Homo sapiens: one gene and its partners. The protein of the gene in region 3 interacts with the protein of the main gene of each other region in a pairwise test. Each region holds a gene or a part of one and is shown on either strand. Other genes may lie near its edges. The genes, in order: EVPL, RBFOX1, PLEKHA5, KRT20, CEP250, PROM1 and SH3BP5L.

Region 1 (4,483 bases), on a different chromosome or scaffold from region 3:
TTCCCCTCCACCCCTGACCATGTGACTCAGAGCAAGTCAGAGCCCAATCTGGGCTTTGAACCCTCAACTCTGGAGAATGTTAGGGTGCCCAGTAGTCTCTTGCGCCTGCCCCACCTCCCCGGCTCCGACAGTGTGAGGCTCCTCTAGATGGCTACTGAAGCCAGCATGCTGGCAAGGCTCCCTGGGGTGGAGGAGGTATAGGGGAACACAGGGCTGGAGTGCGAGGAGGTGGGGATGGGGGACATGCTGCTGCCTCCCTGCCCCAGCCAGCCCAACTACCCCTCCCAGGGCCCAGCCAGGCTGGCTCAGGTGCTAGTGGCTGAGCCGGTGATTCACTGGCTCGGGGAGGGAAGTGGCAGGTAGCTAGGTGGGGTCGGGAACTCACTGCCAGCACAGCTGGCTAAGGCTGGGACACCGAGGCCGCCTGCCCCCTCCCCAGCACCACACAAACCTGAGACCCTCACCTTTTGACCCCTCATGTGGCGGGGCAGTGCTAACACCCCCAACCAGGACTAGCTCACAGAGCCTTCTGCAGAGAGAGACCCCAAAGTCAGGGCAGTGAGCTAGGCTGTGGGGGCAGGATGGGGTGGAGGGAGGGCAGGGGATGCCACCTGGATGGGGCACAGAGGGGCCTCTTCCACCGAGCTACCCGCTGTCCCCTCCACACACTAGGGCTGCCACCCAGGAGCTGGCCCTTCTCATCTCCCGCATGCAAGCCAACGCCGACCAGGTGGAGCGGGACATCCTGGAGACGCAGAAGAGGCTGCAGCAGGTGAGGCCCCGGCAGCAGTTGGCAGGGCGTGGACAGGCTGGGTGGCATGGGAGGCCCATCATCAGGCCTGGCACTCCCTGAGTGCCCCTTGGTGATGGTGAAGATGGGACAGATGACCTTTGTCCTGCACCGCCCATCCCCTAACACACGGTGGGAGAGAGGGCTCAGCTTCCTTCTTTTCTGGGCTCCCCTGTGTCCTTGTCACCTGCCCCACGGACGCCCTGGTCCTGACCCTGTGCCTGGCGTGGGCCTCAAGGTTGGCTAGCATAGCTGGGGTCCCAAAGTTGGGGCTCAGGCCCACAGTGATGGGCAGCAGGGGTGTGGGGGCTCTGGGCCCTGGCCAGTCTGCCCATCTCCTGCCCACAGGACCGGCTGAACAGTGAGCAGAGCCAGGCCCTGCAGCACCAGCAGGAGACGGGCCGCAGCCTGAAGGAGGCTGAGGTGCTGCTCAAGGACCTCTTCCTGGACGTGGACAAGGCCCGGCGGCTCAAGCACCCGCAGGCTGAGGAGATTGAGAAGGAGTGAGTGGAGCTGCGGCAGGGCTGGGGGTCCCTGGGGAAGACCCAGGTCCAGCCCTGACCTGCCGGCCACCTTCTTGACAGCATCAAGCAGCTGCACGAGCGGGTGACCCAGGAGTGTGCGGAGTACCGTGCCCTGTACGAGAAGATGGTGCTGCCCCCCGACGTGGGACCCAGGGTCGACTGGGCACGCGTGCTGGAGCAGAAACAGGTCAGGAACTCAAAGTCACACCCCAGTGTGATCAGAGGGCGATACGGAACTGCATTTAATCCAGGGCCTGACTGCAGGCTTGAATAGTCAGGGTGTAGGGGTGGCTCAGGGGTCTGGGCAGAGAGACAGCAGAGTAGACAGTGCAGTCAGGGAAGACTTCCTGCAGGAGGAGGTACATGAAGAGACCTCAGAGGGGTGAGAGGGCTCAGTTGGGCCAGGGTGAAGTAGTGAGGAGAGGACAATTCCAGAAAGAAGGAGCAAAGGTTCCTGCCAGGAGGAAGCCTGGGCTTCGACGGGAAGTGGGGATTTCTGGGCAGGTGGGCAGAGCCAGGTCATGGGACATTCTGATCCCTGGTTGAGGAGTTGTGCTTTGATGCCACACAGAAGGGGTGTCATCATGACAATAGAGGGACAGTGGGGAAGGGCCCGGCTGGAGCAGGGCATTCTGAGGGCCCTAGAGCTTGGCTGGTGGTGTCCAGGCAGGAAGCACTGAGGCTGGGTCACAGACAAGGCAGGATGGAGCTGGAGACTTCTTAGAGGCTGAGCCCAGCGTCTGGGAACCAGTGGGACTCAGGGGCCACTGCAGAATGGCCTCGCCCCTGGGGGAGCTGCAGGGCATGCACCCGGGCTGCTCCCAGGCTCGTCCACGCTCTGCCCAAATGACCAAGTCCACTTCTCCGGGTGGGAGGCGTGTGGGGTTCTCTGGCTCCCCACCGCGGTCCTTTGGGGACTGAGCCGCCGGCTCTCCTGCAGAAGCAGGTCTGCGCAGGCCAGTACGGGCCGGGCATGGCGGAGCTGGAGCAACAGATCGCCGAGCACAACATCCTGCAGAAGGAGATCGACGCCTATGGGCAGCAGCTGCGGAGCCTCGTGGGGCCGGTAGGTGAGCCTGGAGGATGTCACATCCGGGGCCAGCCCCAGCCCGTTTCTCCAGTCAGAGCCGGAGCTAGATCGGCTGGGCCCTGGGGATAGGGGTGGGTGGGGTATGGCTGGCCCAGATCTTAGGGGGCCGTCTCCCTGCACCCCACCTCTCACGGGCTTGTTTCTCCCCTTGGTCGAGGCAGGATGCAGCCACCATCCGGAGCCAATACCGAGACCTACTGGTGAGCAGGAGGGAGGGTCGGGCAGGGAGGCTGCGGGTGGGCCTGGGTGGCCGCCCGGACCCTGCCCGGGGCCAGTGTTCCTGAGCGCGGCCCAATGGCGCCTTTTGCCCCCCACTTTCTGTCTCCCCACCCTGCTGCTGGCGGCGGGTCCTGAGCACAGAAGGCGGCGTCGTGGCGCGGGCAGAGCCTGGGCAGCCTGTACACGCACCTCCAGGGCTGCACGCGGCAGCTGAGCGCCCTGGCTGAGCAGCAGCGCCGCATCCTGCAGCAGGACTGGAGCGACCTCATGGCCGACCCTGCGGGCGTGCGGCGGGAGTACGAGGTCGGCTGGCAGAGGTCGGGGCCAGGTGGGGGCGGCCAGGGCCATCCGGGTCCTCACCGCCGCTCCCCACCCGACTCGCCCCCAGCACTTCAAGCAGCACGAGCTGCTGAGCCAGGAGCAGAGCGTGAACCAGCTGGAGGACGACGGCGAGCGCATGGTGGAGCTGCGGCACCCCGCGGTGGGGCCCATCCAGGTGCGCTGGGGCAGGGCGAGAGTGAGAAGGGACGTGGTGGGCGGGGAAGGGGGGAGGTGGGGCGGACGTGGGGGGGGCGTGGTCCGAGGGCTCCATGCTGCCGTACCCAGGCCCACCAGGAGGCCCTGAAGATGGAGTGGCAGAACTTCCTGAACCTGTGTATCTGCCAGGAGACCCAGCTGCAGCACGTGGAGGACTACCGCCGGGTGAGCCCTCGGGCAGGCGGCAGGGGCGGCAGGGGCGGCAGGGGCGGCAGGGGCGGGAGCACAGCACCCCTGCCCACAGGAGAGGCACTGCACCTCCCAACTAGACAGAGCTGGCAGGGCGCGGTGGCTCACACCTGTAATCCCAGCACTTTGGGAGGCCGAGGCTGGTGGATCACTTGAGGTCAGGAGTTCGAGATCAGCCTGGCCAACATGGTGAAACCCTGTCTCTACTAAAAATACCAAAATTAGCCAGATGTGGTGGCACGCGCCTGTAATCCGAGCTACTCAGGAGGCTGAGGCAGGAGAATCGCTTGAACCCAGGAGGCGGAGGTTGCAGTGGGCCGAGATTGGTCCACTGCACTCCAGCCTGGGTGACAGAGAGAGACTCCACCTCAAAAATAAAATAAAATAGAGCTGTGTGGTTGCCACTCGGTCCCAGAGGGAAAGAAAGGCATGGGCACATTCTCAACAGGGTGAAGCGGTTCCCAGGGGGGTGAAAATTGGTTCTTACTGGCAGAAAAATATCTTAACTCTTTTTATGCATGAAGTCCAGATCCACATACAGCACCTAAGCTGTATACAGCATATCTGTGGTATTAAAATTTCGTGGGGGCCAGGTGTGGTGGCTCACATCTGTAATTCCAGCACTTTGGGAAGCCGAGCCAGGAGAATTGCTTGACACCAGTAGTTCCAGACCAGCCTGGGCAACATAGCAAGACCCTGTCTCTATACAAATAGATACATCTCTATCAAAATAAATAAATAAATAAAATTTTATGGGGATGAGGTGGGGGGAAATTAAATAAAATATTTCTTAAAAGGCTCTTTAGGAGAATAATAATGAAAAAAAAAACGGTTGAGAAACCCTGATATAATATGCAACTGGGATTTGGGGGCAGATAATGTTTCATACATTTTCCTATAGAACCACAAGACTGTGATCACACACGTTGACAAAAATTCCGTCAAAGCACCTGGAATGCTTCTTTAAAGCACAGCTTCTTCTCCGGGGCTGGGACAAGTGCAGCTCCAATACCCTCTGTCCCAGCAAGAAAGACTTCAGGTGCTGGAGGGAGGCAGGTGACGGTGCCCTTCATTTGTGCAGGAAGGACGAAGACCAAGTGTTTTATGACCCACTTAAAAAAATTAAGTTCAGTG
Region 2 (3,391 bases), on a different chromosome or scaffold from region 3:
ATACCCCAACTTAAGTTAACTTGTAAACAGGACAACGTGGAAAGTTCAAACAGAAGTACAGACAAACTGCAATTTTTCGGCTGTGTCACTCTGGCCCTGCATCCGAGAAAGGTGGGGAGACTTTGTTCTTTTGGGATTAAGAGGGTGGATGTACTTTTTTCTTTTTTTGCATCCTTCTGACAAGTGTCCTGGGCCTTGGAGACAGAACTAAAGAGATCATTTTGAGATAATCCTTGGGGGTATGGGAAAGAGGTGGAAGGGCAGGATCTCACGGACTGAAAAATTGCAGATTGTTCACACAACGCAGTCACGTTTCAAAAAGTACCAAGCTGATGAAAATACCATGATTATCTCTACTCAATGATTGCAATACTTGTAAAATGCTTCTATAAATCCGAATATGATTATCATGTAATTCCATAAAAATTATACGTCTGTCTCTAACAGTTGTTCTACTAGGCTAAAACTAAAGCTTCATAGACTGTTTCTAGAACTTAACAACTCCACTGCACAGATGTAAATTTTATACATTTTTTTTAACTGGTACAAAGAATTTAAGTTTTTATTACTTTCTTTTTTTGGAAAAAAAGAAAAAAATAGAAACAGTGCTTTTTTATCACCTTTTTATTAATGTTATTTTTTCCCTCCCATAATATAAAAGTCAGCAGTGATATCAATAATTTATTATACTGGAAGAAATATAAAAAGAATGCTTGTTGATGGCCTAACTAGTGGGTTTTTTTTCCTAAATAGCGACTGGTTAAGAAGCTGAATACTGCCGGGTGGAATGGTTTAAAGGGTGGGTTTGCACAGCTTCATTCAACTCAGATGCACAAGTGCTACTAGAAGCACCCCCTTAACAACATGACCTTTGGCTTGAACTGGCAATGAGTAACTTAGAACCATTGATAAATGATTGTTGGTGCAGTGGGTCGTTTAGATTCATCAGTTACATTTTTTTTTTTTTCTTTCAGCCAAACCCCAGTTCCAATCCCCTAAGCCCCTCCCAACCTCCCCTTTCGCAAAATAAAATAATGCAGGTGCAGAAAAAAATGACTACTGTAGTCACTTACACTCTTCCCAAATAGCTGATAACCCCAGTAGCTTAATATTCAGCATATATAATTCATTTACATAATATAGCACTCTGGATATGGCCCTAAACCAGTTTTTATTCATTATCTAGCATCTGTCTAGATCAACCACAAAAACTCCTACAGCCAGCAACCAAACTACGGAACCTTCAGAAATTAAAGACCCACAATATTAAAATACACAGAACAAAATATCTGAGGTATAAGATAAAAAATGTAATTTTTTTTCCTTTTTATTTGTATTTTTTTTTTTTTTAGAGTTGCTAAAATGATGTACTACTGCATGTATTGCAATACTCAGGCCTCGGAAAGCTTCCTTTCTCCCCACATTGGAAGGTTTTTATGGTTTTGTCATTTAGTATGGAGCAAAACGGTTGTATCCCCCTCGGTATATACTAGCCTGCAATGAAGAAAGAACGAGACCCACATCATCAGCATGGCTCCTAGTCTTGGCATCAGTCAAAGGTGCAAAAGCATTCTGAAACAAAGCAATTTGAGGGGTGTGTTTTTTACATTTTCCTTTTGCAACATGTGGATCATCAAAAAGACTAATGTGAAAAATAGACACTCAAAACCAACCGAAATGGAGGCACCCCCTACCCATCCCAGGTCATTCTTGGAGAACTAAAGATAGGGCCATTCCTGACCTTCCCCAATAGCTCCTCCTAAAGAAATTCCCTGCAAAACCAAATTCTGTCAGCCAGTCCTCTTAGCTAAAAGGACTCTATTATAAGCTGGACAATGGAAGGATTTTCACTGTCTCATTTTTTTATAACAGAATAATCTGCACTTGAGGTTGAATTTGGACCAGTTGTTGAATGTAATTCAACTCTCCAACACATTCCTCATGTGGACTAGGTGTTGAAGCAGAGTTGTTGAATGCAGAATTGGGATGAAAATCTCAACCTACTTCTTACTTAACTTGGCTCTGTAAGCTGTATGGAATCTGATCTTGAGAAGGGAGTTGTGGAGTTGTACAGATGAATTGCTTGATGTAATTAAGCTTGTGCAAAACAATGCTTCCAAATCATGGCTGAATTTCTATGACTGAGCTTCAGTGAACTGTCCGGCCATGGTTTTAATGGCTACAAGGTGGCACTTAACGATTTCCTTTTTCTAAAAGTATTGGCAATTCAAATGAATGCCTATGGGGATTCATTTTTAGGGTAAGGACTGATATTCTTGATCCAAGCAGAAAACTGCATGCCAAAGCTTTGTAATGATTGCATATGCTCTCACGTGATGGGCACGTCTTACTGTACTCAAGAGTTTCAGTGCATAGAAGTTTGAACAAGTACAGGCAAGTTCACCCCACCCTTACCTCCCATTTTTTACCCTCCCCCCACCCCCTCCCAAAACAAAAACCCAGACCTGCCCCAAAACAAAAGGCAACCCCCAAACCCAGCTGATTCCTTCTACTTTCTTATGTACTAGGTACACACACAAAGTGTGCCCCTCTCTATTTTCTTTCCTGGGCGACTATGACTTTAAACATGAATTGTAATAGGGGAGGAGAGGCAGTCAGATTCTCAGCTGCCTGACAGCAGAGGCCTGGAAGTGTGCAGCTTAGCTCCTCTGAAGTCTGTGCTGGGGCTGGAACCTTGGGGCTATGTGAATGAGCAGCAAGGGAGGGAAAAAAAAAGAAAAAAAAAAGTTCTGCATTGACACTGCATTCTGTTAGTGATGGATTTAATTATCAAAATGACTAATTATTCCATTAAGGTAAGTGCTCTGCTAGGTGAGACTTGCAAAATTAGAAATATAATAACTTACATGCACTACATTGCCAAGAAATTAAGACATTTATCAAGTTTACTGGGAGGATTAATGTGGCATTTTAGCTGCTGTTAGCACAAGAGACAAATTCAATTAACGGGAAGTGAGAGGACGTCAACCCGTACTGAGGTCCCAGCTGGGGAAAGGGAAGGGAGGCAGGAGGAAGTGAGGACAAGGAGAAACTTGTACTCACCATGGCACCAACGCCGTAGGTGGGGGCTGGAGCAAGTGCGTGGTGGTAGGGGTCGGCAGCATAAACTCGTCCGTAACTGAAAGGAAAATAGAGGTGAAGATTGATCCACAGTATGCAATTACAAAACAATAACAATCATAAAATCCAAAATACCAAGACAGTATGCAGGGGCCCTACTCATCTTCCAGTGAGAAGCAAATTCTACTCTGCTGTGTAGTATAAGAAGAGTTCATCTGTACATGATACATTTTTTGTGCATTTAACATGGTTGCTATTGCTATGTTTGACAGATAAATACATATATACACACGTACTTACATATGCTTTT
Region 3 (4,483 bases):
AAATCTTACTTTGTTTTTTTTTTTTTTTTTGAGGGGGGTTTCACTGTGTCACCCAGGCTGGAGTGCAGTGGCTCTATCACAACACACTGCAGCCTTGACCTCCTGGGCTTAAGCGATCCTCCCACCTCAGCCTTACGAGTAGCTGGGACCACAAGTGTGTACCACCATGCCTGGCTAATTTGATTGATTGATTGATTGAGAGAGACAGGGTCTTCCTATGTTGCCCAGCCTGATCTTGAACTCCTAGGCTCACGCAATCCTCCTGCCTTGGTCCCCGAAAATGGGGGATTATAGGCATGAGCCATGGTGCCTGGCCAAAAATCTTTATCTTTAAAGATATTTAATACTTTTTTTCTGAATAATTTTTCTATGTGCCCTAAGCTAGCCAGCCTCTTAATTATGTTACTATGTGTTTGTGTGTGTAAATACATTACACAGAGTTTGAGTTTGATTATTGAATTTTCATATTGTTTTTATAACTTAATTTATGCTGTTATCTTTATGAAGAATGCTGAAAATAAGTGAATTTTATAACTTGTAAAGTGTGGCTTTAAATATTCCGTATTCTTATGAGAACGCAAATAACTTAGCCCATAAAGCACAGAAGAAAATCTTATACGTTTGAGTTATAAAGCTTTCTGCTTGCTCCTTGAAAATATTGCTTAATGATTCTGTAATGACAGGCCATGGTAACTTAAAATGGATGTGTCATTTACTATTCCTTTGTGCTTCAAAGCTTTAAGATGGTTAACTTAGAGTGCCAAGTAAATCTTAAGGCTCTCTGAATAGTGAGAAACTTTATTCTGATTATTTAAAGGTCATTGCAGGACTGGGTATCAAAACAATATTTGCGGGGGTAAAATAGTATGCAAATTTTTTAAGGTTATGTTTTCATACTGCTTTTTTTAACTTAAAATTCTAAGTTCTGAAAATTGAACTTTTTCTTACATAGGCAAATAGAGTATGAGGTTTTGTTTCAATATCTGCAATAGCTGGATCTAATGTATGCTAATTCCAAACTTACCAAAACTAGCGTTGCAAGTAAGGAGAAAAATCTGTTTCTTCAGATTTTCACAATTCAAAATATGAATGAAGATGGGGAATCTAACAAGTGCCATAAAAAACATTAGAATATATTAACTATGTATTTGATATTTAAAGTTGTTTTATACTTTACTTTTTTTTTTTCTTTGAGACGGAGTTTCACTCTTGTTGCCCAGGCTGGCATGATCTCAGCTCACGCAACGTCCACCTCCCGGGTTCAAGCAGTTCTCCTGCCTCAGTCTCCCAAGTAGTTGAGATTACAGGTGCCCACCACCACCACGCCTGGCTAATTTTTTGTATTTTTAGTAGAGAAGGGGTTTCGCCACGTTGGCCAGGCTGGTCTCAAACTCCTGACCTCAGGTGATCCGCCCACCTCGGCGTCCCAAAGTGCTGGGATTACCACCACCCCTGGCCAAAAACTGTTTTATACTTTCTATAATAATATAACCAAATTTTGATTACTAGAGCTATATAATTCTTTAGAACACTTTGTGGGCATTATATTTCTTTTCCATATTTATAACAAGAGTTTTGGACTGTTAATATGTGATTCCTTACATTGATAAAGCACTTTATGCTAATTCATTAGTTACAAAACAACTACGAACTATGATCTCAGCTTTCAAGGAGTTTGTAGTGTAGAGATAAATATGCAGTATATTAAAACAGGGAGATGGTTTGGGGAACATAGACTTATTTAGTGCTAGGCACTTCAGCATAGCATTAAACTCCTATAATCCTCACAATAGCCTTTTTGTTGTTGTTGTCTCTTTCGTTTTCAAGTTGGTGTGCCAGGACTACCAGCCTCAGTAGACTTTGTTGTGGAATTCTTTTATTTTTAGCCCCAGGACCACTGCTTAGGGCCAGGTTTGCTCAATATCCTCCTTGTATTTCCTGTGATGCCCAGCATCTAGTCAGCCTCTAAAGAAGTGGTATCTGTGATGATGATGATGCTGGCTCCTAGTTATTTAAGGAGTTAATCAAGATGGGGAAAGAATAGTCCCCACAACTCAAGTGGTTGCATTTTAAGAACACTTTCTGGATTTGTCAAGGGACTTTTTCTTCCCTAATCTGGATAGACCCCTTCGTTTCTTCTTATTCTCAAAGCTGGCCTATATTTAGGAAGGGGGAGGAAGTGGTCAATACAAAAACACAAAAAGTATTGGAAGAGTTGAAGAGTCGATGACCTGGAGACAGGGCCTTACATAGGACCTGTCTGTCCTATACAGGATGGAATTTCTTTGAATTTGTTAGCAGATGCTCTTTTCTTGTGACTGTTTCATTTTTTTAAATAACAGATAAATATAAGATGAAATTAAGGGTGAAAAGTTATGTGTATATGTGTATGTGTAAGTTAGAGTTAATGGTGTAAAAAAATGGCACGGCATGGTGGCTCATGCCTGTAATCCTAGCACCTTGGGAGGCTGAGGCAGGCGGATCACTTGAAGTCAGGAGTTTGAGACCAACCTGGCTAACATGGTAAAACCCTGTCTCTACTAAAAATACAAAAATTAGCCGGGTGTGGTGGCGGGCTCCTGTAGTCCCAGCTACTCGGGAGGCTGAGGCAGGAGAATCGCTTGAACCCAGGAGGGAGAGGTTGCAGTGGGCCGAGATCACGCCACTGCACTCCAGCCTGGGTGACAGAGTAAGACTCTGTCTCAAAAAAAAAAAAAAAAGAAGATGCTAGTTTGAGTCATAAGAATTCAGAGGAGGAAGAGGCAGCCTAGGCTGGGCTGCCCTGGAACGACTTGAAGAGGTGGGAGTTGAGCTAGGCCTGAGGGTATAGATGGGATTCACTTTCAGATGAGTTGATAAGACTGGGAGGATACATTCATGGGGCTGGGAACACGTATAATATGTGAATATGTGTGATGAGTAATACTAACTAGGCTTGTTAGTGATGGTTCTGTAGAAAATGCTAGGATGATGGGAGGTGAGTCTAGGAATGCTGTTTGGAACCATACTGTGTCCGGTCTTTGAATGTCAGGCTGAGGTTTTTATTTTCCGGGCAAGCCTTTGCAGATGTTTTTTAGTATAGCGTTAATTATGCAACATGAAGGTTTTAGGGAGATTTCAATACAGGCAGCATGGATTGGACAGGAGCAAAGTGGGAATCAAGGAGACCATTTCTGAGTCTGTTGCCATAATTGGGTAGTTACTTGAACTAAGTTTGTGGCAGCGGGAATGGAAAGGAAAGGCCATTGATCAAAGATGTTAAAGACGAGCTGACAGGCCTTAGGAGTCTTGCTGAGCAAGGAGGTTGACAGAAAAAAAGAGGTCAAAAGCTCCTCAAAGCCTTTGTGTCTGAGTGTCTACAAGAATGATGATGAGACCCTTGACCGGAATAAAGGAGTAGGTGTGGGAGGGGGAGCCCCAGGTGGACATATTAATGGTGGTTTGGTTTTTGAGCTGCTTGAGAGGACATAGCATTTCAGGTGGCTAAAATCCGACTTTCACAAAGGACTCCTGACATTATCTTTTTACTCCCCTCAAAAAGCAAACACAACCCACTCCCCTATCCTATCTCAGCTACCTAAATGACTATCTAGCTATTTATAGATTCAGGCTGGGAATTTCATATTCATCCATCTAATTATTCATTCAACAAATGCTTATTGAATATTTACTGTGTGCCAAGTGCTTTAAGCTTTATGAATGAAACAGACATGGACACTACTCTTAAGAACTTTATAGTTGAATTAGTGGGGGAGCCAGTAATAAAATAATCATGCAAATATGTAAGATAGACTGTGATAAATGCTATGAAGAATATCTAATGTTTTGACTACGTATATTGAAAGGCCTTAGCCCGTTGTGGGGGTTGCTGGGAGAGGCATTTCTCACAGTTAAGCTCCAAACCCCTGCAGAGTGGATCAGAATAGAGCAGTGTAAAGTCACTGGAAAGATGAAGAATAAATAGCCTCCTGGTCTTGAGATTGGACCACAACCTGAGTGAAAGCATTGCTATATATAAAGAAAGACTTGGGGGATGGGGTTGGTATGGTATGGCAATTTATGAAAAGGAGAAAGCTGCTGCAGAAGCTGCTCTTTATCATCCAATAGATAACAATGTTTAGCCAACTGATTTTAATGATTATCTCAGTCCCAGTGGCAAGGTCTTCCAATTAGTCACTCACTCATGTGTTCTTCCAATTCTCTTGAATACATTTTGAACTCATAGTTGTGTGCCTTAGTGATTAGTGTACATCAGTAAATGAAATAAACCAAAAAATTCTGCCCGTCTGGGGAGTGGGATGATGGGGGAGAGAATGTCAAAGTAAACAATAAATAAGTACATTTTATAGTATGTTAGACTACACATAAATCCTCTAAGCAAAAAGTCTACTTTTTAAGTCTACTTTGGTTTCAAGAAAACAAGGAAATATATTACTGAAGTCTGTACTATCGTGATTAGTATGGAAGAAGTGAATGTAGACTA
Region 4 (4,410 bases), on a different chromosome or scaffold from region 3:
ATAAATAAATAAATAAATAAATAAAAAAGAAAATGTCATTCTTTCTCATGTATTTTCCAGATTAAGGATGCTCAACTGCAAAATGCTCGGTGTGTCCTGCAAATTGATAATGCTAAACTGGCTGCTGAGGACTTCAGACTGAAGTAGGTTCCCTAATACGTGGCAAAAGTTTCTGAAAAAGAATTCCTTTAGTAGTCCTTCCAGATACTCAGCTTTCCATATCATTGTTGATAAAGGAAGCACGGTTCAATGTCCAGAATCCTGAAGCCTAAAGGAGGTTAGAAGCTACATGTATGAAGCTAACCCAGCACTCAGGGATGGCCTTCTCTTTCTTGATCCCCCGGCATGTAACTAAACACCTCCAGTAACTACTATTCTCCTTGGTTATTACTGGTTGCTAAATTTTTTTTTAGTAACCTGGTATCTAAACCTAATTCTGCCCTTTGGAGTAATAACAAAGTAATTTACAATTCTCCTTCTCCCTAAGTGCCTTTCTGTTATCTAAAGAGAGTCTTGTGTCTACCCTTGGTGATTCTCCAAGTAATTCTCCACGTTCATTCAAGTGCCTGCAAGTGTATGACCCAAGTTCCAGGGGTGACTCTTGATGATTTCTGGCTTGCCAGTGTTTTACAGGATGGTCTGGCCAACCAAAGAACCAGGACCAATCTATAATAATTAGCTGGGCGTGATGCCGTATGTCTGTAATCCCAGCTACTCCGGAGGCTGAGGCAGGAGAATCGCTTGAACCTGGGAGGCGGAGGTTTCAGTGAGCTGAGATCGTGCCATTGCACTGCAACCTGGGCAACAGACTGAGACCTTGTCTCAAAAAAAAAAAGGAAGAAAGAAAGAAAAGAAAAAGAAAGTAAAAATTGTGTTCACTTTCTTTGTAGTCATCACACCACATGTGACCAGACCTGTTCCTTGCAAACAGCTTCCACACTAAGGCCTCTTCATCCTGAATTTGTACAATGCATTAACACCAAAAAGCCCTTTGTGGTTAGAAGGGTAGCCTTTTAATGCTCCAAGGGATTAACAAGAAGGAAATAGGAAATCAAATCCAAAGATGAAAGCAGTAAAGGTGCATTACTTCCAATTTTACCTAGCACTGAGTGTCACATTGCAGTGTCATTTTTTAAAGTTGGATATTTTAGGAAACTGGGCAGGGCATGCATGATGGCTAACGCCTGTAATCCCAGCACTTTGAGAGGCTGAGGCAGGAGGCTCACTTGAGTCCTGGAGTTTGAGAACAGCTTGGGCAACGTGGCAAAACCACATCTCTATACAAAAATACAAAAAAAATTAGCTGGGCATGGTGGCATACATCTGCTGTCCCAGCTACTTGGGAGGCTGAGGTGAGAGGATTGCTTGAGCCCCAAAGGTTGAGGCTGCAGTGAGCCATGATCACACCATTGTACTCCAGCCTGAGTGACAGAGTGGGACCCTGTCTCAAATACACACACACACACACACACACACACACACACACAGTGTGTATGTAAGATTGTAGAGGAGGATGTAGAGCTGTTTGAGATAATTCACTTTGGATGTCTCTGTTCACAAAGTAATAAAAATAAATCGATCATGTACATTCATTAAGTAAAACTAACCATTATTTAATATCAATAATAAGAACCCTTTGCCAACACAATAATTAACACAATTTAATTTCTTATAAGATAAATTCTAGAATTTAGAAGTGTTCAAAATTATTTCAGATTGCCTTTTTACCAGTCACCCCAAATTATAGAGATTATATTATTGAGCACATTTTCTGACTCCTAGGTTCTTATGTAAATTTCATGATTGTGTAAAGGCAGACATTATAAAGTATTGAAATTGATCTCCTCATAAGCCACATTTAAAAACCTATCCCATTATATTAGATTCTCTCCTTATAATGGCTTCAGAAGGACCAGTTATCTCTGTACACTAATTAATTCACAGGTATGAGACTGAGAGAGGAATACGTCTAACAGTGGAAGCTGATCTCCAAGGCCTGAATAAGGTCTTTGATGACCTAACCCTACATAAAACAGATTTGGAGATTCAAATTGAAGAACTGAATAAAGACCTAGCTCTCCTCAAAAAGGAGCATCAGGAGGTGAGAAAATATTCAGAAGTGGTATTGGAAACAATGGAATGGTTCTATATAATACTAATAATAGGAGGAGCGGGAGAAACAGGAGAAGGGGGAAGAGTTGGTGGTGATAGTGACAGAGATGATGACGATGACAATAATGATACAAGCCCTACCTTCTTTTCATAATGTTGTTGTAAGTTAAATGACTTAGAGCAGCACCTGGACCACAATAAGCCCAACACAAGTTATTATTTTATATCTTTTTTACTTATTCCCAATGAAAGAGGTCATGAGACTCCTTATGTCTTTTCTGCCCAGCCTTATCTGAGAATGTGCTTCAGACTAAAATCAATCAGAAATTTCACTTTCATAGGAAGTCGATGGCCTACACAAGCATCTGGGCAACACTGTCAATGTGGAGGTTGATGCTGCTCCAGGCCTGAACCTTGGCGTCATCATGAATGAAATGAGGCAGAAGTATGAAGTCATGGCCCAGAAGAACCTTCAAGAGGCCAAAGAACAGTTTGAGAGACAGGTAACCACACAATTCTAAAGGGTGAGCAAACGTGTAGATGCTTTCCTCCAGAAACAGATAACTCATTTTCTTTTTCATTTGTTCATTCTTCCTTTCTCTTTCTGTCTTTTCTTTCTTATTTCCACCCCTCAACTATTTTTTTTTCACTCTTGGCACTGTAGACTGCAGTTCTGCAGCAACAGGTCACAGTGAATACTGAAGAATTAAAAGGAACTGAGGTTCAACTAACGGAGCTGAGACGCACCTCCCAGAGCCTTGAGATAGAACTCCAGTCCCATCTCAGCATGGTAAAGCATATCTAACTTCTCTTTCTCAATCTAGTATGTGTTTACCAAGGTCCTCTGTTAGGAACTATAGAAATGCAAAGACCTACAAGAAATAACCCTTCCCCTTGCAGAACTGGCAGGGAAACAGGCCGAACAACTGATTATAATTAAAGGACAGAGAGAAATCGAGGAAAGGGCAATGTACTGCATGAATGCAGAGGAAAGAGTAAATCTGGAAGATTTCACAGGGAAAGTGGCATTTAAACCAGATCTTCTTGTAACTTTTAAGTTCAGGAGTACATGTGCAGATTTATGATGTAGTTAAACTTGTGTCATGGGGATTTGTTGTACAGGTTATTTCATCACTCAGGTATTAAACCTAATACCCATTGGTTATTTTTCCTGATCCTCTCCCTCCTCCTACCCTCCACCCTCTGTTAGGCCCCCATGTCTGCTATTCCCCTGTATGTGTCCATTATACCAGATCTCAAAATCTAAGATAAAATTTTAAGATGGAGAATGGACTAGAGACATTCCAGGCCAAGCAAATCAGCAAGCCCATGACAAATTATGTTGTGGTAAGCAGAATCCCTCAAACCACAGTGGCCTGCAGCCATGATACTACATCCACCGTGACATTTCCTTTCCAAGGGCAAGGCTAAAGGGGTAGGCCCTACCTAGGACATGCCAGTGTCCTGGCAGAAAGAAAAGAGCAATGGTTGGTCCACTTGATAGCTCTTAAAGCTTCTCCTTAGAAAAGGCATTTGTCCTTTGGGAGGCCAAGGCAGGAGGATCATTTGAGGTCAGGAGGTTGAGACCAGCTGGCCAATATGGTGAAACCCCATCTCTACTAAAGATACAAAAATAAGCTGGGCATGGTGGTGTGTGCCTGTAATCCCAGCTACTTGGGAGGTTGAGGCAGGAGAATCGCTTGAACCCAGGAGGCAGAGGTTGCAGTGAGCTGCGATCACATTACTGCACTCCAGCCTGGGCGACAGAGCAAGACTCCGTCCCAAAAAAAAAAAGAAAAAGAAAAGGCATTTGTCAGTTTGACCTGCATTTTATTAACCAAAGAGAGTCACATGACCCAGCCAGGTGTCAATGGATTAAAGGAATCTAATCCTGCAATTGAGAAATGCCACAGATCACATGGCCAGGTCTGATGAAGGAGTGAGAGGTATAACATCTTCACACAGTGGGGAAGCAAGTACTGAGAACAATGCTACAATGCGCCGCACTGAAAGAACAGTAGGTGCAAAGCTACAAGCAAAGAAAAACCCCAAGAGCTAATGATCCTAGCTGGCTGGCTGAGGTTGCCTAGTTGGGAAGAGTGGGAGATGGAGCTAGAAATATACACCATGCCCACAGTGATGAACTGCAGAGACCCTTCTCAAAGGAAATTAAAATTAACCCATCTCTTGAATCAAGTCCTCACATAAGAAGTGCCCTATTTTTCTTGTGCTCATAGAAAGAGTCTTTGGAGCACACTCTAGAGGAGACCAAGGCCCGTTACAGCAGCCAGTTAGCCA
Region 5 (4,483 bases), on a different chromosome or scaffold from region 3:
ACGTTTGGTGAAGTGTAATGAGAAGGCATTGGAAGGTTTCAAGATTTTTGTAAAAACAAAATGACGTAATGCATGTAAAGCACTTAAAGCAACAGCCCTCCAGAAGCACTCAGCAAGTGTTAACAATGATGATGATGATTCACACAGTTCACAGGCTCCCAGGCTGGGTTCTCTTCCTTTGTTTTCTCATATTATCTTATTATTTCACATGCTACATTGTATGTATTGTAATAGTTTGTGTCTATTTCCCCTGCTAGACTAAGAACACCTTCAGCGATTCATTCAACAAATGTTTCTGAACCACTGTGCCAGGAACTAAGGATGCAGTGATAAACCAGGAGCTCTTGGTTTAGTGCAGAGTTCCAAAAGTCATGCCAGGAGACACTAGTCCTGTGAGCTTGTCTCATGGTCAGTTAAATTTGGGGAATGATGCTCATCATAGCGCCCTTCAGAGATGAGGGTCCCTTTTAGTATTTTAAAGGTTCTGAGGAGTCTTGTGTGTAGTAAAAGAACAGTCCTTTCCATTTGACTATGTGCTTTGGTCCCCAGTTCAAGAGGAGGTTGAAGTGGCATGGCAATGGTTAGAGACCCTGCTGGGCGTGAACACCCTCTGGCTACCTAGGGACCTGTGGGCCTACCACCTGGTGCCCTCATGGAGACAAGAAGCCCTGGGTTGAACAACATGAAGCCCCAGTCACTGCAGCTGGTACTGGAAGAGCAGGTGCTGGCACTACAGCAGCAGATGGCAGAGAATCAGGCAGCCTCCTGGCGGAAGCTGAAGAACTCCCAGGAGGCCCAGCAGAGACAAGCAACCCTTGTGAGGAAGCTGCAGGCCAAGGTGAGGCAGCTGCCCTTTTGGGGAGGGGAAAGAGAACAACCCCCAGAGCTAGGTGCTGAGGTGAGATAAGGGTTGCAGGAGGCAGAGTCTTGTGGTGGGAGTGGCCTACATCTAGCATGGTGAGATAAGACCCAGACCTTCTAGCTTTCATGTACAGCTTCTCTTTTGATGCTCACAACTGCTCCATGAGGTACGTATTATATCCTTTTAATTTAATTTTATTTTTGAGATAGGGTTTTGCTCTGTTGCCCAGGCTAGAGTGCAGTGGTATGATCACAGATCGCTGCAGCCTCAACCTCCTGGGCTCAGGCAGTCCTCCTGCCTCAGCCTCTGGAGTATCTGGGACCACAGGTGTACACCACCACTTTTGGCTAATATATCTCTTTAAAGATGAAATTCACAAGGGTTAAGTTAATTATCCAGGTTTCTTCAGCTAGTCTAGAGCCAAAGCCCATGATCTTGCCTCTGTGATATAAAAGGCATATAGAAAGTATTTATTTATTTATTTATTTATTTTTGAGACAGAGTCTCGCTCATATAGAAAGTATTATTTAAATGCCCAAATAAGGCCAGGCACGGTGGCCCATGCCTGTAATCCCAGAATTTTGGGAGGCCGAGGCAGGTGTATCACCTGAGGTCAGGAGTTTGAGACCAGCCTGGCCAACATGGCAAAACCCTGTCTCTACTAAAAATACAAAAATTAGCTGAGTGTGGTGGCGCATGCCTGTAATCCCAGCTACTCGGGAGGCTGAGTTAGAAGAATCACTTCAATCTGGGAAGCGGAGGTTGCAGTGAGCCAAGATTGTGCCACTGCACTCCAGCCTGGGACACAGAGCGAGACTCCATCTCAAAAAAGAAAAAAATGCCCAAATAGAAACTATAAGATGTTATGGCCTTACCTTACTGTCACCACCCATTTCCCCTGTTCATAGCAAGTTTGCCTAAGATCCTCAGGGGCCTTTGCTTTGGGCTGTTTGTGCCAGCTGTGTTCATTGCCCAGGGCCTGTTCTTTTTGCTGCAGGTGCTGCAGTACCGAAGCTGGTGCCAAGAGCTGGAGAAGCGGCTAGAAGCCACTGGAGTGAGTGAGGCTGAGCTCTCTGCACCCCCTGGGTCCTCAGTGAATATACTTGTTAGGTTTCATTTGTTGACTGAGGGAGGTTGGAGTGTACAAGTGAGGTGTTTGGTGGAAGGCTCTCTTTCTCAGCCTCTGAGAGGTTTATCACACTGATATCTTCATTGGACCTAGCTGGCCTGTCAGATTCCAACCCTTGGTTTTCAAAGGACGAAATGTAAATTAGATTGGAAGGAGTGTGGGATTAGCAGGAAGAAGTGCATGTTTCCTCCAGCAGGTGTCAGTGTTTCTTTTAGAAAGATGCAGGCCTTTGCGAGCCTACAGCATGTCTGCAGCAAAGGGATGTCTGTGCTATTAGAACTGGCTTTGAAAAACCCATTTATTTGCCTTTGTTCCAGCTGCCTCTCAGTACCTCCTCACATTTTCCTCAGAAAAGTTCTCTCAGAGGAAGGAAAGAACCAAAACTTATTGAGCACCCTCAATGCAGTCCAGGCAGCATGAGGCACTGTCATATACAGATGGTCCTCCCCAACTTAGGATGGTTGCAAGTTTTCAACTTTATGATGATGTGAAAGCTATATGCATTCAGTATGTTCCTTGGGTTATGATGGGGTTACAGCTGGATAAACCCATTGTTTGGGGTTGTTTTGCTTGCTTGTTTGGTTGGTTTTTGTTTGTTTGGTTGGTTGGTTGTTTTGAGACAGGGTCCTACTTACTCTGTCGCCCAGGCTGGAGTGGACTGGTGCAGTCATGAGTCACTGCAGCCTCAGCCTCCTGGGCTTAAGCGATCATCCCACCTCAGCCTCCCAAAAAGTAGCTGGGACTACAGATACATGCCTCAACATCTGGCTAATTTTCTTTATTTTCTGTAGACACAGGGTCTCTCTATGTTGCCCAGGCTGGTCTCAAATTCTTAGACTCAAGCAATCCTCCCACTGCTGGGATTACAAGTGTGAGCCACTGCATCTGGCCCGAACTCACTGTTAAGTTGAAAATATCATAAGTTGAAAATGTCAGCCAGGCGCAGTGGCTCATGCCTGTAATCCCAGCACTTTGGGAGGTCATGGTGGGTGGGTCACAAGGTCAGGGGTTCAAGACCAACCTGGCCAGCATGGTGAAACCCCATCTCTACTAAAAATACAAAAAATTAGCCGGGCATGATGGTGCGTGCCTGTAATCCCAGCTACTCGGGAGGCTGAGGCAGGAGAATCACTTGAACCCAGGAGGCAGAGGTTGCAGTGAGCCGAGATCATGCCACTGCACTCCAGCCTGGGCAACAGAACTAGACTGTCTCAAAAAGAAAAGAAAAAAAGAAAACGTCGTAAGTTGAAAACACACCTTTAACTTATGTTCAACTTATGATGGATTTATGGGATGAAATTCCAGCATAAGTCAAGGAGCATCTATAATTGTGTCTCTTAACCTGCACAGCAACTTTCTGAAGGGAACGATATACCGCTTTCATTTTGTAGCTGGAGACACTGTAGCTCCAAGAAGTTAAGTGACTTCACAGGCTGGGTGTGGTGGCTCATGCCTGTAACCCCAGCACTTTGGGAGGCTGAGGTGGGTGGATCACTTGAGGCCAGGAATTCAAGAACAGCCTGGCCAACATGGCGAAACCCCATCTCTACTAAAACTACAAAAATTATCCAGGTGTGGTGGCAGGTGCCTATAATCCCAACTACTTGGGAGGCTAAGGCAGGAGAATCACTTGAACCTGGGAGGCGGTGGTTGCAGTGAGCTGAGATTGTGCCATTGCACTCCAGCCTGGGCGACAGAGCGAGACTCTGTCTCCAAAAAAAAAAAAAAAAAAAATGAAAGAAGTTAAGTCACTTCCCAAGGTCAAACCGTTAGTGTAGTGGAAGTTAAGGCCATTAGTGAAAGATACATCACTTCTTAAGTTGAAGATTCTATTTACTACTGAAGGCCGTCTTTCAGGAGAGGTCATCAGTTTACTTTTGGAGTGAGGGATGCAGTGATTGAGAATAGAAGCATATTGCTAACAAAGGGGAGAAAGAATAAAAAGAAAGTGGACTGCCATGGAAGGGAGCCTTAGGGAACTGGTCTGAGTGATGTTCTCTTTGGAGGTAAGTAAGGCTTGTCTCTGTCTGGCGCAGGGACCAATCCCCCAGAGGTGGGAAAATGTGGAGGAGCCAAACCTGGATGAGCTGCTGGTCCGATTGGAGGAGGAGCAACAGAGGTGATGGACCCCAAACTTTCTGACCTGGGTGATTGGCCAGTTGGTGGAGAAGGCTGATGGGAAACTTCTGCCCTGAGGGCTAATGTGGACTTCAGCCATAGCCCTCTAATTCCTGCAATGGAAAATTTCAGTGGTTGCCATCTTACTCCCAGGAGGTCCAAGGGTTGGACTAGACCTTTATTTTGCACCCACTTTTACCCCTCCCCAGTGCAGGTGTGAGAGTCTAGCAGAGGTGAACACCCAGCTTCGACTGCACATGGAAAAAGCTGACGTGGTGAATAAAGCCCTTAGGGAAGATGTGGAAAAACTGACAGTGGACTGGAGCCGGGCCCGGGATGAGCTAATGAGGAAGGAGAGCCAGTGGCAGATGGAG
Region 6 (4,483 bases), on a different chromosome or scaffold from region 3:
GCCTCCCCTCTGTCCCTGGTGATCTGTGGAAAGGCATCTGGTGGCTATGTGGTTCGACTGAATGGGGTGGGTGGTGGAGGCTGGACATAGAGAGACGTCAATTCAGAATCAAGCAGGTTGGCTCTGGACTCCCCTAATGAAGGCTTCAGCCAAAGCTGGCGGCAGGGGCCACCAAGCACAGGACAAGAAAAGTAGTTGCAAGAAGAAGGAAGCATCCAGGAAGCAGGGCCTAGGGTCTGCGTGGTTGGGTCGGAGGCAGAATCCTTTTCACTCAGGCATGAAAGACCCTCCAGCAGACAGATGGACAAGTGAACGAGGGAGGTGGACAGACAGGGCAATAGGGATGAACTGTGCCAGAGAGCTACCTGACAATGCATCAGTGATACTCTGTGCCAGGTATTATGCCAGACAACAGGGACACAGCCTTGAATGCACTGGTGACTCATGGAGTGGAGAGTCTAGAGTGTGCTGGAGAGACAGGTCTTAATCAAAGAAACATATAAATATGTAATTGAAACAGCAATAACATCTCTAAAGGAAAAGCATAGAGTTCTACAGGAATGAGGAAAACGGAGCTCAGCCTAGTTTTGGGGATCAGAAAAGGCTTCCTGGAAAAAAGACATGTTTGAGCTAAGACCTGAAGGCGGAACAACAATAGTAGTGAATATTCATTGAGTGCTGATGTTCCAACAGCGTGAAGGGCTTCACATGTGACCTCTCACTGAATCATCAAAACAGCCCATGTAGGCGAGGAACTCAGAAAATTTCAGGAATTTTTCAAAGTCACAGAGTTCTGAAAATGTAGAAGTGGAATTTTCATTCAGAGTTGATGTTCTCCACCATTGTGTTACCAGACCTGGAGGAGTTAGGTCTTAAAGTGGGGAGTGGGTAGGTGGGAAGCGGAAGAGGAGAGAGAAAGAGAAAGGCGGCGTGTGCCCATCTCCAGTCCAGGCAGAAGAAACGGCATGTGCATGGGCCCTAAGGTGGGGAAATTGAGATTTATTTGATGAAGTGAAAGAAGATGAGTATGTCTGGAGCACAGAAAGAAAGGCGGGCAGGCAGAGAGCACACAGTGAGATCTGGAATGGGGAGGCTCAGCCATGCAGAGCCTAGTATGGGCTATGAGGAATCCTGATCTTTAGATAGCAATGGGAAGCCACTGAGGTGCTTTCAGCAGAGGGAGAGGATCCACTCACAGAGAGAGTCAGCATCTGTTGAGGAGGGAACAGAGCTGAGGATTAAGCCTGACTAACTGGAACTTACCATCCCAATAGTCACATTTCTAAGGGCTTTTTAATGACAAATGAAATTTGATGCAACTTTGGGGTTGTAAATGTAGTTGTACTGAGTATTCTTTTGAAGATGAGAAATCTGCACACCCGTGACTGTCTTTCTGATTATTCTGAACTAACAGGAGTTTTCTCCCTGCAGGTCTCCTGACTCATAAATATAATCCTAGTGAGGAAAGAAGACAACCGCCCAGAACTTTGACTTTTCTAGTCTATTAGCATCTCAATACACTGATCAAAATATTACATTTTAGGTTTTGGATTCTCTCAAGCAGAAAACAAATATTATAATGTATATCATAATCCAGAAAAACAACCAAAGATGATGGATTCATTGTGTCTTCTTTTGAAAGATGAAATCTTACCAAGGGGTCGATAATGTAGCTACACAGAAAGACATCAACAGCAGTATCTAGAGCGGTGGCCACAGGTTTGCACGATGCCACTTTCTCACTGATCTAGGGGGGTGGAAACACAGGGAAACTTTGAGCTGCATCCACAAAAACCCAAAGGAATGAGACGTGCCATTTACTTTTGACTTGGTGTCACAAAAAGGATCTCCATGTCCTCTAAGACAGGGGTCCCCAACTCCTGGGTCACAGATGGATACCAGCTAGTACCGGTCCACAGCCTGTTAGGAACTGGGCTCCACAGCAGGAAGTGAGGGGCGGGTGAGCAAGCAAAGCTTCACCTGTATTTACAGCTGCTCCTCATCTCTTATGTTACTGCCTGAGCTCCACCTCCTGTCAGAGCAGCAGCAGCATTAGATTCTCATAGGAGCATGAACCCTATTGTGGAACTGCACATGCGAGGAATCTCAATTGTGCTCCTTATGAGAATCTAATGCCTGATGATCTGTCACTGTCTCCCATTACTCCCACTGATTCTACACTGTGGTGAATTGCATAATTATTTCATTATATATTACAATGTATTAATAATAGAAATAAAGTGCACTATAAATGTAATGCCCTTGAATCATCCTGAAACTACCTCCACCCCCGGCCTGTGGAAAAACTGTCTTCCACTAAACCAGTCCCTGGTGCCAAAAAGGCTGGGGACTGCTGCTCTAAGACATGGAACTGACGGCTGATGTGCATGGATGAGTTCTGCATATACAGTTACAGTCGGCCCTCCATATCCCTGAATTCTGCATCCATGGATTCAACCAATCATAGATTAAAACATATTCAGAAAACAATGGATAGTTGTACCTTTACTGAACATGTACAGACTTTTTTTAATACAGTATACCAACTATTTACATAGCATGTACATTGTATTAGGTATTATAAGTAATCTAGAGAGATTTAAAGCACACAGGAGGATGTGCATAGGTTATGTGCAAATAACTATATCTTTTATATAAGGGACTTGAGCACCCAAGGATTTTGGTATCTGCAGGGGACTCTGGAACGAATAACCCATGGATACTGAGGGACAATTGTATATATTTTAAAGCAAGATCCTTATTCTCTCTGAGCCTCGGTTTCCAGTTTCCTCATTTGTTTTGGAACAGTGAGACCCAGCCTACAGGACTCTGAGAGAATTAAAAAGTTCTCGTGCCCAGCATAGTGTTTTAGTTCAAATTTGTTACCTGGCCCCTTTGTTACCTGAAAAAGGGGGTGGGAAGCAAATGGAAGAACTGCATATGGCAAAGGTGAGCAAAGGGGACCAGGAGGTGGCTGTCCTCTGACCTGGTGGGAAGCCCCAGAAGTCTTGGTCCTGCACATCAATGTCCTTTCACTTACTTCCTACCAAATTATGGGAAATTTAATTTTATTTCTTCCAGATTTTACCCTAGAAAATGGCTATCCTGAAACTTGACCCCCCTTAACATTCATAAAAGATAAACTACTTACAGAGAACTCGATCCACTGCAGATAATGTTCAAAATATCCTATTATTGTTCTCCCATACTTCTTAGTTTCCTGGAAAGAAACAAAAGATGAGTAGAAGCATTAAAATGATGACAGCATACTTAAACATTATAAATATTTAATCTGTAACATTCAAGTGCCCACTTATGGACACGCTTACTTTAAAAAAGAAGGCTCACCTCAATAATAACAGAGGAAGTATTGTTTGTGATGAAGTTCTGAGCAAAATCCAGAGAAGCTAGAATCCTAGTTACTCTCTCCTGAAAGACACAGCCACAGTTATCAGGGTATCAAGTCATAGAAAGTTTTAATTAGACAATTTGCATATTGATTCAAGTACTGTAACTCAGCTCTGCAACACCACGACCTGGACCTGCTAGTTAAGAGGAAGACAGAACCCACCCAGGCCCCTGAGGGCAGGGAAGGAGATGAGCTGAAAGTGAGCATTTACTCTAGCCCAGACACTGGGCTAGTCCTTGATAGGAATGGCCTTGCTGGACTTGCTGGAAACTCACAACGAGGCAGGAAGGAAGGTACTGTTTGTTAGGTTCCCTTCACAAATGAGGCAGCTCAGCCTCTTCACGGTCACCATGCTGGGGAAACATACGACAATGCTGGGATTTGCACCGAACTTTTTTTTTTTTCACTACAAAACCCATAGTCTTTGCACTACAACACAAGCAAAGACGAGTCCTCTGCCAACCCACATGGCAGCTTGGTGCAAATTGGAAATGGGGCCTTTTCTGCCCAGGGACCTCAGGGCACAGAGCCTGGCAACTCAGTCAATGGCCAGTTTCTGCCCTCGACTAACCCCCTTGGCTGGGCCCCTCATGAAAGGCCTTGCACCACTGCACACCCTCGCCCTGTTCACAGAGGTAGCAAAGCACCTGCACGTAGTCACTGGTGTGTTTCCAGGTTCCCCTGGCATGAGACACACACCTATGAAATGGCAACTGTGATCAGAGGCATAGCGAGGGTCCTGGAGCAGAGTAAATCTAAACATCTTCAAAGGAGCTGAGCCATGATGTTGGTCTCACTGAGAAAAGTGGAAGGAGGAACATTTAGTTTTATCCTGTGGGGCTGATACCCAAAACCTGTCATGTACAGACTATTCCGTTCAATGAAAAAATATCTTCTGAGTTGCCCATTGGTACTGTAGATACAAGATGAATACAACCCAGCCTTGCAGCTCTGTGTCTGCTGAGGGAATGCTTGCAGCCCACACATGGCCCCTGTGGTAGGTAGATTGCATTAGCTGTTCAGGATTATTGATATGCTCCTTGGATGGCTTCCCAGAGCGTGGAGTATACTTCC
Region 7 (4,483 bases), on a different chromosome or scaffold from region 3:
TGACATTGCATTGAAAACAGCCAATTTTTCTTGCTATTTCTACAGATTTATCATCCTCTGAGGAAATCAGTTGTAGTGAAAAAAGTCTTGGGCTGAGTTTCACGCTACCTCCAACCCCATGATTTATGATTTTTATGGAAGTTTCTTTACGTTTCTGAGCCTCAGTTTCTTCATCTGTAAAGTGAGCAGTTGGTCTAGCTGATTTGCACAACTCATTCTTGCTCTGCTCTGACACAAGTCTACAGTTCTTTCTCAAACTCTTTTTGCTTGTTCCTTGGTGATAGTTTGTAGATAGCACTTTGGGAAAGAGCTGTCTCTCTGTTGCTTGTGGAGGAGGGCTGTGTAATGTGCATTATATGCCTCCCTACAGCCTTCCTTGCCCTGCTCCAGAGAAGGCTTCTGCAGAGGAGAATCCACTGTGGTCTCTTTACTTGGCCTCTACTACTCCTATGTATTTTTCCAGTGTCTGCATAGGCACATGGTAGTAGTAGGAAGAGTCATGCTTGCATTGTGCTGTCTAATAGGGTGGACTAGCTGCATGTGGCTATTTAAACACAATCAATTAAAATTAACATGTAAAAATGCAGTTCCTCGGCCAGGCATGGTGGCTCACACCTGTAATCCCAGCATGTTGGGAGGCCGAGGCAGGTGGATCACCTGAGGTCAGGAGTTTGAGACCAGCCTGGCCAACATGGTGAAAACCCGTCTCTACTAAAAATAAAAAAAGCTAGCCAGGTGTTGTGGCGGGTGCCTGTAATCCCAGCTACTTGGGGGGTTGAGGCAGGAGAATTGCTTGAACCCAGGAGGCGGAGGTTGCAGTGAGCTGAGATCTGCCACTGCACTCTAGCCTGGGTGACAAGAGCGAAACTCCGTCTCAGAAAAAAAAAAAAAAGCAGTTCCTCAATGTTATACTGACAGTGCATAAATAGAATATTCTGTCATCACTGACTCTTCTATCAGATGAGCTCTATGAGAGTTGGAGTACACTGAGGTAGCGTAAGACTTACTTTGCCTCCAGTGAACTTGTGATGTCGCTGGTGCAGGAAAGGTAAAGCAGACCCTCGTCTCTCTTGCTAAACTGCACAACACGTTGTGGAATGTTGTGGGTTGTATAGGGAGGAAAGGTCTAGTAATAGCTTCCCTCATTTGATGACACAGGTGTGGGTACGCCAGTGCTCTGACCTCAGCAGGGAGTCAGTGTCTTCTTGCTGTGTGAGAGAGGCAGCCTGGCTTGAGGGGCACCCTTCACGGAGGAGGCCGGTGGCATTTTGCCCTTCTGTGCTTGGGCTTTCAAGATGAGGAGGAGATTGGGGTGTTTGTCTTTCGAGGTCCCTTTGAGTGTTGACAGTTCACTAGACCATGCACATTGCTCTGATCATGTGTTTCAGTGCTTTAGGTGGGTGTTCATTTCTCTGGATTCTCAGTGCATTTACTGGGTTTCCATCCACCGTCCATAAAAAGCCACCAGGGAGCTTCAAAAATACCCTTACCTGAGCCTTTCCAGACATGTGGATTCTCTTAGTCTGGGTGGGGTGAGAAGGGATTCTGATGTTACAGTCAGAGCCAAATCCACTGGGCCAGGTATATCCCAAAGGTAGAGCGCCTGTTTCGGTATTTTCTGAGGCTCCCGGAAATGGCTGTCCTTCGGATGAGGCCCTGTCTGACCTGGGGCTGGGGCTCCTTTGCAGGCAGGCAGCTCCATGGCCATTTATGGTGGGATTCCTCTGGAAGTTAGAAGGAAGTCAGCTGGTGCCTACCTGGAGCGTGCTGTCCCTCCAGGGAAGGCTGCTGGCTGTGTCTCCTTGTCATGATCTTAGTGGAGTTCTTTTGAGTCCTCCAGGCTCATCCTCAGCTTTCCGAGAGGGTTCCAGTGGAGGGAAGAGGAAAGGAGCGTGGATCTAGGATGGACCTGGGTCTGTTCTGTGACTTTCTCAGCCCCCTCTTAGTGGTTGCATTCTTTCCTCAGATGTGAGTGCTCTCGTTTACCTGCTCCTTTCCAAACTCTCTAGGGTGACTTTGCAACCTCTGTGACCTCATCTAGAAGTATGGGTTTAGCTTTCACAGGACAGTCATCACCCTGGCCCCAGTTACCATTAGTTTGAGTCTTTTGATGGTCTGCACTAGGTGGGGTGGGAGCATCTGCAGCCTGAGTCCCCATGCCTTTGATTCAGTGTCCTGGCATCCTGGGAATCTGACTGCTGTGCCCTGGGAAGGTCACCCTCCCTGCTGGCTGCTGGCTCACTGATGGATGATGCACGTTGATTCAGACTTTGTCCTCCCCAAATTCCGTTTCAGCTGAGTGCCAGGAGTCCCTGGTGAAGCAGGCCAAATGGAATGTGTTGCTGACTGCCCAAAACTGTCCCAGGTCCTCAGTGGATTCCTGCTCAGCCTTTCCCTGGGTGTCGCCTAGGTGGGCTATCCCCCTCCCTCCTGTGGTGACCTTGCCCTCCAGGCTGCTTTGCTCCCCAGGCATCTTCTTGTCCTGTTAGGGAGAGCTTTGTGACTCTGAGGGGACAGATCCCATCAGCAGATGGCTTTCTGTAAATTGCTGGAGGTGCCACTGGGAAGCTAGTTCCCATATAGAAAGATAATGCCCACTCCTGCCACTTGCCAATAGCAACAGCTCTTCTTGTCCTTTTAACAGTAGTAACAACTTATGCTGAGCCATCCAATCCATTGATGATCTTGTCAGGAGCTGGAAGTTGATGACTGGAAGCATTTGAGGCCATGGAATCCAGTGGGGATCCCGTCTTGGACTTTGATTTGCCACATGAACATTGCAGGGTGGCCTTTACCAACTGACCCCCCACAATCAATGTTTGTTGCATTTCCAATCCCTGTCCTTTTCCTACGTGGGCTGTGGTTTTCCTAGATTACAGCACTTCTTTCTTTACTGAGATGTCCTTCCAGTGGTGTCCTCATTCCCAGGAGGGTGGTCACAGTGGAAGGAAAGTGAGATCAAAGGTCGGTCCTGGATCCAGACCCAAGTCTGTCACTAATTTTCCGCCTGGTTGTTTCTCATCTATCAAATGCAAAGTTGCTGAGAAAGAATATTCCAGCAGGAGGTGCTGAAAGAACTGGTCACTCGTCTCCCAGATAGCCTAAAAGCCCCTGTAGGCCTCGTCAAGCCCCAGGAAGCTGGGCCCCCAGGGAGGTAGGTTGCCTTTCAGCTTGACAGACATTGCCTTTTTAGGGCCTGTTGGGGTGATCGTGTCAGTTGCTGGTGATGTCTCTGTTCGGAAGGCACTGTGAAACTTGGAGTTCCATGTGTCTGGTAGTGTTGATGCTGACCCTATGCCTCCTCTGGGGCCCTGAGCTGTGTTGGCTGCCTGTTCTTCCAGAATGGTTGTTATTTTATGGACACTGGGTTGTGGGACACTGTAGATGCATCTACCCAAATACAACAACTTCTAGACCTTCGCCACCCAACACAGGAGCCACATGCCACTGTCTAGGTTGAGATGTGTCACAAGAGTCAAGTGCATACGGATTGTGAAGACTTAGTTTAAAAAAGTAAAAGTATGGATAATAATATTATTTTATGTTGATCACATGTTGAAATATATTTTGTATATATTGGGTTAAATGTATTTTTATAATTTCACTCTTTTTTTAAATTTTTTTACTTTTAAAAAATGTGGCTTCTAGAATTAAAAATTCCATGTGCAGCTCCTGTTACGTTTCTGTTGAATAAGTCTCTTCGAGAAAATTTAGAGCAAGCTTTTCCAACCCGTGGCCTGTGGGCCGCATGCAGCCCAGGATGGCTTTGAACACGGCCCAATGCAAATTTGTAAACTTTTCTTAAAACATTATGAGATTTTTTTTTGTGATTTTTTTTTTTTTTTTTTTTTTTTGAGACTGAGTCTTGCTCCTTCACCCAGGCTGGAGTGCAGTGGCACAATCTCAGACCACTGCAACTTCCGCCTCCCAGATTCAGGTGATTCTCCTGCCTCAGCCGTCCCAGTAGCTGGGACTACAGGTGTGTGCCACCATACCCAGCTATTTTTTTGTATTTTAGTAGAGATGGGCTTTGCATCATGTTGCCCAGGCTGTTCTCAAACTCCTGAGCTCAGGCAATCTTCCCACCTCGGCCTCCTGAAGTGCTAGGATTACAGGTGTGAGCCACTGCGCCTGCCCACGATTTTTTTTTTTTTTTTTAAGCTCATCAGCTGTAGTTAGTGTTAGTGTATTTTATGTGTGGCCCAGGACAGTTCTTCTTCCAGTGTGTCCCAGGGAAGCAAAAAGATTGGACATCCCTAGTTTAGAGCCAGATTTGTGGCCCTCCTTAGGCAGGGTCTACACTGTTGTAGGTAGGTGTGTGCATTTTCATATCCTCATTCCTCGTTCCATTACAGGTTTCTACCTTTGTGTTCTTCCTGTTACTGTAATTAACATGTCAAACCATTTCCTGTATTCTTACCTGCTGACCCAGATCTTTTCAGGATCAAGGCAGGGGATGGGGGGAGGATAGAAGAGGTAGAAG

The links.
Region 1: the proteins of PLEKHA5 (region 3) and EVPL interact in a two-hybrid assay, tested with the Homo sapiens proteins (one large-scale study listed by BioGRID and IntAct).
Region 2: the proteins of PLEKHA5 (region 3) and RBFOX1 interact in a two-hybrid assay, tested with the Homo sapiens proteins (one large-scale study listed by IntAct).
Region 4: the proteins of PLEKHA5 (region 3) and KRT20 interact in a two-hybrid assay, tested with the Homo sapiens proteins (one large-scale study listed by BioGRID and IntAct).
Region 5: the proteins of PLEKHA5 (region 3) and CEP250 interact in a two-hybrid assay, tested with the Homo sapiens proteins (one large-scale study listed by BioGRID and IntAct).
Region 6: the proteins of PLEKHA5 (region 3) and PROM1 interact in a two-hybrid assay, tested with the Homo sapiens proteins (one large-scale study listed by BioGRID and IntAct).
Region 7: the proteins of PLEKHA5 (region 3) and SH3BP5L interact in a two-hybrid assay, tested with the Homo sapiens proteins (one large-scale study listed by BioGRID and IntAct).

What each region holds. Positions count from the first base shown.
Region 1 is NC_000017.11:76,020,310-76,024,792, reverse strand, and holds part of EVPL (envoplakin), read left to right. Parts: intron 1-672; coding exon 673-772; intron 773-1,138; coding exon 1,139-1,293; intron 1,294-1,374; coding exon 1,375-1,501; intron 1,502-2,254; coding exon 2,255-2,380; intron 2,381-2,565; coding exon 2,566-2,604; intron 2,605-2,764; coding exon 2,765-2,926; intron 2,927-3,011; coding exon 3,012-3,119; intron 3,120-3,229; coding exon 3,230-3,325; intron 3,326-4,483. UniProt on the Homo sapiens protein: Component of the cornified envelope of keratinocytes. May link the cornified envelope to desmosomes and intermediate filaments.
Region 2 is NC_000016.10:7,708,804-7,712,194, reverse strand, and holds part of RBFOX1 (RNA binding protein fox-1 homolog 1), read right to left. Parts: intron 3,140-3,391; coding exon 3,064-3,139; intron 2,702-3,063; coding exon of another isoform or gene 2,554-2,701; exon of another isoform or gene 1,573-2,553; coding exon 1,450-1,572; 3' UTR 1-1,449. UniProt on the Homo sapiens protein: RNA-binding protein that regulates alternative splicing events by binding to 5'-UGCAUGU-3' elements. Regulates alternative splicing of tissue-specific exons and of differentially spliced exons during erythropoiesis.
Region 3 is NC_000012.12:19,135,869-19,140,351, forward strand, and holds part of PLEKHA5 (pleckstrin homology domain-containing family A member 5), read left to right. Parts: intron 1-4,483.
Region 4 is NC_000017.11:40,878,305-40,882,714, reverse strand, and holds part of KRT20 (keratin, type I cytoskeletal 20 precursor), read left to right. Parts: intron 1-60; coding exon 61-143; intron 144-1,944; coding exon 1,945-2,101; intron 2,102-2,453; coding exon 2,454-2,615; intron 2,616-2,776; coding exon 2,777-2,902; intron 2,903-4,349; coding exon 4,350-4,410. UniProt on the Homo sapiens protein: Plays a significant role in maintaining keratin filament organization in intestinal epithelia. When phosphorylated, plays a role in the secretion of mucin in the small intestine.
Region 5 is NC_000020.11:35,461,716-35,466,198, forward strand, and holds part of CEP250 (centrosome-associated protein CEP250), read left to right. Parts: intron 1-549; 5' UTR 550-652; coding exon 653-838; intron 839-1,859; coding exon 1,860-1,916; intron 1,917-4,027; coding exon 4,028-4,110; intron 4,111-4,318; exon of another isoform or gene 4,319-4,323; coding exon 4,324-4,483. UniProt on the Homo sapiens protein: Plays an important role in centrosome cohesion during interphase. Recruits CCDC102B to the proximal ends of centrioles. Maintains centrosome cohesion by forming intercentriolar linkages.
Region 6 is NC_000004.12:15,982,609-15,987,091, forward strand, and holds part of PROM1 (prominin-1 isoform 1 precursor), read right to left. Parts: intron 3,430-4,483; coding exon 3,349-3,429; intron 3,221-3,348; coding exon 3,152-3,220; intron 1,748-3,151; coding exon 1,655-1,747; intron 1-1,654. UniProt on the Homo sapiens protein: May play a role in cell differentiation, proliferation and apoptosis. Binds cholesterol in cholesterol-containing plasma membrane microdomains and may play a role in the organization of the apical plasma membrane in epithelial cells.
Region 7 is NC_000001.11:248,819,074-248,823,556, reverse strand, and holds part of SH3BP5L (SH3 domain-binding protein 5-like), read left to right. Parts: intron 1-2,295; exon of another isoform or gene 2,296-3,154; intron 3,155-4,483. UniProt on the Homo sapiens protein: Functions as a guanine nucleotide exchange factor (GEF) for RAB11A.